Regions from separate parts of the Homo sapiens genome. Here region 1 is linked to region 2. Evidence: fine-mapped expression QTL. A gene starts in region 2. The other region holds a variant in brackets. All regions are shown on one strand. Distances are between the middles of the regions.

The links. PIP is the estimated chance that this variant, and not a neighbour inherited with it, causes the effect.
Region 1: its variant is fine-mapped to the expression of SNX18 in atrial appendage (GTEx, PIP 0.98).

The regions. Positions count from the first base shown.
Region 1 is chr5:54,644,602-54,648,989 of GRCh38, reverse strand. It overlaps a transcript of SNX18 not described here. Among named protein-coding and RNA genes, the nearest start is that of LINC02998, 97 kb to the left of the region's middle. The variant G/A (reference allele first, on the strand shown) is at 1,976.
Region 2 is chr5:54,515,109-54,519,496 of GRCh38, reverse strand. SNX18 (sorting nexin 18) reads right to left here and starts at 1,738. Exons shown (of 2, transcript NM_001102575.2): 1 at 1-1,738. The coding sequence starts at 1,544. RefSeq lists an enhancer at 1-830 and silencers at 1,303-1,862, 1,743-1,984.

The DNA.
Region 1 (4,388 bases), 130 kb before region 2:
GCTCCATCTGCTGCCTGGTGCATGACCCGCTGGGTGAAGCCAGCTGGGCTCCCGAGTCTAGCGGGAACTTGGAGAATCTTTATGTCTAGCTAAGGGATTGTGAATACACCAATCAGCACTCTATCTAGCTCAAGGTTTGTAAATGCACCAATCAGCACTCACTTTTGTGTCTGGCTCAGGGATTGTAAATGAACCAATCAGCACCCTGTCAAAACGGACCAATCGGCTCTCTGTAAAACAGACCAATCAGCTCTCTGTAAAGTGGACCAATCAGCAGGATGTGGGTGGGGCCAGATAAGAGACCAAACGCAGGCTGCCCGAGCCAGCAGTGACAACCCGTCACCTTCCATACTGTGGAAGCTTTGTTCTTTCGCTCTGCAATAAATTTTGCTGGTGCTCACTCTTTGGGTCCACATTCCCCTTATGAGCTGTAACACTCACAGGGAAGGTCTGCAGCTTCACTCCTGAAGCCAGCGAGACCATGAACCCACCCGGAGGAATGAACAACTCCAGACTCTCCGACTTAAGAGCTGTAACACTCACCGGGAAGGTCTGCAGCTTCACTCCTGAGCTTGCGAGACCAGGAATCCACCAGAAGGAAGAAACTCTGAACACATCCGAATATCAGAAGGAACAAACTCTGGACACGACGCCTTTAAGAACTGTAACATGTAATCCCAGCACTTTGGGAGGCCAAGGCGGGTGGATCACGAGGTCAGGATATCGAGACCATCCTGGCTAACACGGTAAAACCCTGTCTCTACTAAAAATACAAAAAATTAGCTGGGCACGGTGGCGGGGGCCTGTAATCTCAGCTACTTGGGAGGCTGAGGCAGGAGAATGGCATGAACCCAGGAGGCGGAGCTTGCAGTGAGCCGAGATAGGGCCACTGCAGTCCGGCCTGGTCTAAAGAGCGAGACTCCGTCTTTTTTTTTTTTTTTTTAAAAAAACTGTAATACTCTTCGCGAGGGTCCGTGGTTTCATTTTTGAAGTCAGTGAGACCAAGAACCCACCAATTCCGCACACACCAGCATTCCTTCGGGTTCCTAAATAATAAACTGGGAACCATTCACCCTTGACATCTCCATCTCCTTAATCTTCCAGAATCCGGTCAGTCTCCAAGTTCTGCAGATCCTACTCCTTTCACTTCTCTCAAATCTGTTCTCAACTCTTCATCCCTGTTGCCCGTTGAAGTTTCAAGCCTTCATTTTTCTGGTCTATTGCAATGATCTGCTACTTAGCCTTCCCCTGTTTTCAACCCCTGCTGTTCAATTTGCTGTCATGAAGACAAGTAAATATCACTCATTTTCTGGGAATCTCCTCAATATTGCCCCCACAGCCTTCAGGATGATGACTTTGATTCTTGGATTGGAATACAGGGTTCTCTACGATCATGCCTCTGCCTACCTCCCCTTCCTCTCATGCCCCATTCACTACCAACTTCAACTGCTTATAGTTCCCAAACCATGCCAGGCTATGTAATATCTCTTTGCCTTTGCTCCACAGTCCTCTTTCCAGAATGCTCTGTTCTTTCCTCTCCTCTAGGTGAACACCTCTATACTTTTCAAAACTGAGATCAAGCATCACTCGTTAAAGAAAACTCTCCTGGGTCAGGTGTGGTGGTTCATGCCTATAATTCCAGCACTTTGGGAGGCCAAGGCGGAAAGATTGCTTGATGAGATGAGACAGAGATTTGAATTTATAGCCCAGTAAGGGCAATACGATCTTTTTCCTGCGTTTTAACTGTTGCACTCGGCATAGTACTCGGCATGTATTTGGCACTTAGTAAATGATTATTGAATAAATACAGATGTAAATGATGGTCTAATTCAGAACACTATATTGTTAAATATCCTGAATATATTTATTTAAGGCGTAGTTTGCAAACAAGCCATGTATTAGAACATCAGAATTTCACATGTGACAAAGCACGATCTGGTTCAGTGAGCCAAGTTGGTAATCTCCAGCCGATGAC[G/A]AATTGCTCTTGAGACACTTGTTACAGGCAGCCTCAGGAAGAGGCACAGGCCATTTATACCGCTTCGAGCCGCCAGTCCCAGCTCTCTTGGAGAAAGGCAGCACAGCTGGGAGGGCTCACAACAGGAGGCCTGTTGAAAACAAGTCGTGGTTTCACCCTGTGTTTTGATTTCTGTTCAGGGAAGGGCACTTCCTCTTGCATTTGTAGGAGCCAAGTAACACATTCTGGGTGGAGGGAACTATGGTAGAAAGCCTAGTGTTGGACACATGAAAAGGTGGCAGCATCTTAGAACTGGCTAAACACATATCTTGGCATAAGAACTTGGGTGGCAGGCAACCAAGATTTGGGGAGTGCTTTTCCTGCATCATTTTCTGCTGGGATTGCAATATGAGGGAGGCCTTGTTGATGGGTGTAGTTTGTTATGGTTGGCAATACCTTCTGGTTAGTAGTGGTTGAGTGCTTGCTAACTTGTGAATTCTTCAGAAGAGAGTAGAATATAAAAAGCCTTCAAGCCTCTCCTGTCTCCCCCGCAATGCGGCTAACGCAGGGCAACCGGCAGCAGTGAGCTGTGGATCCAGGCACTGGCTAGAGAAGTTGACAGACCACGAACACGGGGCAAGCTGAGTCTTTCTGTTTCACTTCCGGCATGTTTTTCACCCACAGGGATATTTTGGTCTGTTTCAAAGAAGAGGAAATCAGCCCCTAGCAGAGTGTTTCAGAAAAGCAGCAGAAGAAAAGAAAAAAGATTAAAGCCATATCTCTTGGGGAGAGAGATAAAAATCTGGATTTTGTTTGAAACAATGTTTCCATTTCCAACACCTCAGGTCCATAAAAAGTAGGAGAAAAAAAGTCTTCTTGGGGTTTCAGCATGCACAGTGCATTTATTCTCTCTCTCATTTCTTAATTTGTCAGTTTCTTTCGCCAAGTACCAAATCCAGTAAATGTTCTTTAAATGGAAAGAAAAAAGCAATAATGAATGCCAGAAAAGTTTCCCAACCAGCCGGCCAAACCACAAGTATCCAAAAATGTGATTTCATTTTTAATAATACAGAAAACTGAGGAATATCAAGTAGAAATATAAAGAGAGGAAAAACATTGACTTATTCTAAACACCAATAAAAAGGATTTCCAACTTCAGAATGTTTGTAGAAGACATGAAGAGAAATAGCTAGTCAATGAAGGAATTCAGAACCCGGTGTTCACAAAATTAAGAAGATACTAGTGATCAATGAACTCTAAACACTCATATGGGTTTGCCTTCTCTGAATCCTTTGAAATTCACTCTCTATTCGGTGTCCAAATTTCCTGTATATGTAAAATGGAGCCAAGGAGCCCACATTGTGAACAGAGAAAGTAAAGATCGTGTAGGATGAAGACATTCGTGTTGTAACCTGTGTCTTTTATGCCAACTCTTAGAATTTAAGGAGCAGCTGGGGAGGCCAGCAGGCTGACTTAAGCCCACAAAGGATGGCCTCTGATCCCTGAAACTGGGGGAAGAAGCAAGATAATTCTTAACTACTCAGGTGACATCTCTTCCAAGAAGTTTTCTCTAACTTACTCCCTAGCCCAGGAGGGAAGGCTTAGACCCCTCATCTGTTTTCCCGGAACACCTGGGCATAGCTCTTATTGCATCCAAACGGTTCTTATAATGCAATGCAACACAATACACAGTATCTATATGTCTCCCTTGTTAGACCATGGAGTCTAGAGCAGGGATATCTTTACTTCTCTGGTGCCAGGTATAGTGGCTGGAACATCAATTACCTAATTGACATGAATGCTTTCTTTCTTTGTATCCAAATAACTCAGGGCATTTTAGTTGTTTTATCCTATGGTTATATCATTCTTACCATGTTTTAGTACCGGCAAATAGAATTCATTATTTCCCAGGATATATCAGTTAATAATTTCATAAACAGAGAAACTAACTACATCTGGAGCAGTGCTTCCCAAACTTTACTGTGCATGCAAATCACCTGTGGATCTTGCTACAAAGCCGATCGTCACTCATTTGGCCTGGGAAGGGGCCTGAGAAGCTGCCTTTCTAACAAGCTCCCAAGTGCTGCCAATGCTCTTGGTCCATAAAGTAAGAGTGGCTTGAGCCAGATAGAGTTTAATTTTGTTTCCTGAAAGTTAAGTCCAGAGATTAGCAGTCCAGAGCTTGTTTGGCAGTTCTGCCACATCATCATCAGCCCAGGCTCTTCTATCTTTCTGCTTTACTATCCTAGGTTCTGTTTACCCCAAGGTCTCCCCTTGTCCCAAGATAGCAGCTGCTACTCTAGCCATCACACCTATATTGTAGTCAGTAGAGAGGAGGACACACCAGGGCAAATGGCTGACAGCTGGGTCAGCCCCTTCTAAAGGAGTTGTCAGGAGGAGCCCATCTGACAACTTTCACTCCTATCTCACTGGC
Region 2 (4,388 bases):
AGGTCCTGCCTGGGCTGCTCCGCGAAGAGCTCGCCAATGGCGTCATAGGCATCTCCGGTGAAGGCGATAGCCTGGTTCAGGCCCACCGAGAAGGCCTGCTGGTCCAGCTCAAAGGCCTGGCTGAGGCCGCGGAAGGACTGGCCCACCTTCTGATACTCCTTTTTGAAGCCGGTCACCTGCTTGCGCGCGAACTCGTTGGCCGTGTGGTTGAGCTGCAGCGCGCTGTCGTCCATCTTCTTGGTGAAGCACTTGAAGCCGTCGATCTTGCTCTCCACCTCCTGCAGGTCAAGGGCAGCGGCGGGGGGCGTGCTAAGGGTCAGGAAGAAGTTGGCGCCCACCATCTCGTCCTTCTCGGCCTTCCTCTTGCCCTGCTTCCAGGCTTTCTCGTCGGTGCTGCTGGGGCACGTCAGGAAGTGCTGGAAGACGTCGCACTGCGCCAGCACTGGGTGGCTGGCCATGTGGTTCATCCACCAGATCAGGCCCTTCCTGCGCTTAGAGATGAAGTCCTCCTCGAAGCGGCCGGTGGCCTGCTTCTCGGGCAGGTGGGGCACGGAGATGACCGGGAACTTCTCCGCCAGGCGCGCGTACAGCCAGTCGAAGTGCTTGTAGCGCCGATGCACCGGCACCTGCGTGTGCGTGGGCACCAGCTTGTAGGAGATGTAGCTCTTCATGCCCTTGAACTTGGTCTGCTTGGTGGGGTCGTCGATGGTGCACTGGAACGGGTAGGGGTTCTCCTGCCACTCGGGGCCATAGGGCCCCAGCACCACGCACAGCTTGTCCCCGTCCTTCACGAAGCCTGACGCCTCCCCCAGCACGAAGGCCTCCCCGCCGGACTTGACGAAGGTGGAGAAGCGATTGAGGTTGCGGCTCACGGTGGCCGAGCTCTTGGGCCCCGACGGGTGGTGCTGCGGGGGGACCGAGCCGCCGCGGGAACCCAGGGACAGGTCGGAGCGCGTGGACAGGCGGTAGCGGCCGGCTGCGCCCACACCCGCCGAAGACGAGCCGTCGAGGTCCGGGTATGCTCCGCTGCCCAGAGCGCCCGGCTCGTCCGCCACCGTGGAGCTGTCGTCCCACTCGTCGTCCCAGTCATCATCGCTGCCTTGGCTGGCCTGGTAGCCGCCGTAGAGCTGCTGAGGCGACGGCTGCAGGGCGCCCCCGCCGTACGGGAAGCCCGCGCCGGGCGGCTGGAAGGTGCTCGGAGGCGGCGCCTGCTGTGGCTGCAGCAGCGCCTGGAAGGCGTCAGGCGGCGGCTTGAAGGAGGCGGGGGGCGCGACAGGCAGGGGCTCGAAGCCCCCGGGGGGCACATTGGCGTAGCGGGCCGGGGCGCCCGGGCCGCCGTCTCCCGCCGGGCCAGGCTCGGGGGCGCGGATCACCTGCACATAGGAGGCCGGGAAGAGGCCGCGGTCGCCGCGGCTGTTGACCCCCTCGAGCCAGCCCTCGATGTCCTGCTCGCTGCACAGGCTCAGCACCTCGTGCTCTCGCAGCGAGATCTCTCCTGGGTTCTCCGACCTGAAGTCGTACAGCGCCCGGGCGCGCAGCGCCATGGTCCCGGCGCCCCGACTGGCGGTCCCGACTCCCGGCGTCCCGAGCCGAGGCCCACCTGAGGGGCCCGCGGTACTGCTCGAGCCCTGGCGCGCGGACTGGAGCCCCGAAGGCGGCAAACCCACGCTGCCCGGACCAGCCGGTCGCGCCCTCCGCGCGGCTCCGCTCGCAGCGCCTCCACTTCGCAGCGCCGACTGCCGCGCTGGGCCGCCGCAGCCGCCGCCGGTCGGGGGCGGGGCCCGCGGCCTCCCACGTCTCCAGCTGCGCTAATCCACGGCCGAGAGCCCCTTGCCAGGCGAGAGCAAGCGATGGCCGAGCCGCCGAGCCCACCGCCCGCGTCGGCTTTGCGGCGGCCACTGCCCTCTAGTGGCCGGTGCCGCGAAGCCGGGCGCCGTAGTGAGCGCGGCTGAAGGAGGTTTCTACTCCGAAGTGAATTATCTGAGATTTCTTTAGGCTTTTAAGTTAAACATTCTCTAGAAAGTAAGTTAGCATTTGCATGCCTGATAAACGTTCCCACTCTGAGCGCTCAGTGAATGCTCCTAGAATGGCAACCCAGTCATGTAATAAAGCATTTTGCAATGCGAATTAGTGATTGCACTAAGAAAACAGGATGCCTCTGCGGAGGAGCTGTTCACCTACAGAGCAGGCTCCCTTCCCTCTTCTGCTCAAGGAGAGGAGATTGGCAAGAACAAAGTAAGGGCCAGGGAAGGTGCTGTGATTGACAAAATTAGAAGCAAAGGATCATGTAGAGAGGGAGGAGCTGGAGAGTTTCCAGTACAATAAATGCTCACACATTTATTACATGCATGTGTCGCCTATCCTCCCATAGATATATGTAGTGCGGTGAATGAGAGCTCAAACTTCGGAGCCAGGCTTCTGAATTTCAATCTGTGTTCTGACACTACCTAGCTGTATGACCTGGAACAAGGCACTTATATCGTACCTACCTCCGGGGGTTGTTGTGGGGATTCCATCATAAAGTAATCCCTATTTTACAGATGAGGAAAGTGAAACAATATCTGGCAGGGTAAGCAGATTTGAAGGGTTTGTTGCTGCTTTTGCTGCTGTTACTGTTATTTGGGGGAAGCAAAATCCCTGGCCTCTTTCACAAAGGGAATAGGGGTACTAAACTAACAATTGCAGGGTACATGCACCAGGAAGCGTCCCAATGTTCACATTGCCACTCCTAGTAAGAGGTCAGTGACCATCCATCCATCTGTTGTCTCTATGTCTCACTATATTTATATTATTTTTAAGATAAATAGAACAAAAATCACTTCCTGAAATAATCAGCTCCAATCTATCGTTGCCTTGTTTCCTATCTTCCTTTCCTTCAGTGTATAATTTGCCCAAAGCTTTTTCTTCTCTTAATCCCCTCTTATTAAGTCTAGCCTAATTATTCCTTTGAAGACACTTCTAATTGAGGTTCTGCATTCATGTGTCATTAATTTCAGCCTGTCCTCTGACCCTTTTCAAGGAAACCTGGGAAACGGGCCAGAAGAGTGTACAATTATTCTAAGGGCTGTGGTATTGTAAGCATCTTGCACAAAAACACAAACCCACTATACCAGAATCACTCCCACAGTGTTTATCCTAATGCAAAACCTTAATTCAATTCAGTAAGCATATTCTAAATTACATTTTTAGCTGAAAATTCTGGGTTTTGACTATTCTCACAGTAAGCAACAGGGATCATTGAATTTCAATGCCAACATTTCATGTGGTCAGAAACATGAAGTCCACATTAACTAAACCTCTAGAATATGACTCATTTTACTTCTGAAAAGCTAACCTAGAATATGTAAGATAAATAAATTTAGTTTCGCCCCTTCTGTTCGTTTAGTAGTTACTTTTTAGATTAGAGTTAAGTACAGTAACTTTGGGCTTATTTCAGGTGTGAAAATTCCAGGAGTTTAAGGTGATGATTTTTTACAGACTGGTTGAGCTACTCTGTAGAAATGGTGGTTGAGGAATTATTGGGTGTCCAAGGTTGTTTGTAGCACTGGGGCATGGGCGTCTGCAGGTGCTTACTTTGTAGGAGTCCAGTGGGAGGCCTCTGTGCTTGCCGCGCATCAGGCTTCCAGAAGGATGAGGACAGGCTGTCATGATGTTTGGCCCTATGGCCACTAGTGGCAGGAAAACCCCTACCTCTAGAGGGTCTTAGATATGTAGAAAATTGTGCTCCAGTATTAACAACCTATAACTGTTCACTCAGGGAAATAGATACAGTAACACATTTTGTAAAGATTTCTCTAGAAAATGGAGCATATTATTCACAGTTTAGTTTACACAATCATTATAACCACCCATATGCTTCTGTAAAGTTTTTAGGGGACACTAAATGACCCCAAACAATTGCATTTTCTTACTTCCTCCCTTGGCCTGAGAGGCCTTAGATAGCCTGGCCCTTGGCTATCTTTCCAGCCCCCTTTTCCACTGAAAGAAGCCACAGTGGTTGCTTTGCTATTTTTGGGACAAGTCAAGCACGTTTCTTGCTGAAGTTTTTGCCTTCGCTTTTCTCTCTCCCTGGAGCCCTCTTCCCCGGGAGATCCACCATGCCACATCATCGCTTCATTCGGTCAGAACCATGGGGCTTTCCATCCCTCCTTTCTTCTCCTTCCTTGGAGATACCGGAAGACAGAGGGAGCCTGGGTCCCTGAGTCACCGACCCCAATCATACTTTGTGAGAGAAAAATCCTTTGTCCGACTAAGCCACTGAAATTTCAGAGATTGCTGAGGCAGCTGGTACTAATTATGCTAATATAATCTCCCTCCCTCCCTCCCATCCCCTGTCCATCCCACAGTCTCACTTTTCTTTGTAGCAACTATGACCTAAGATAAACACG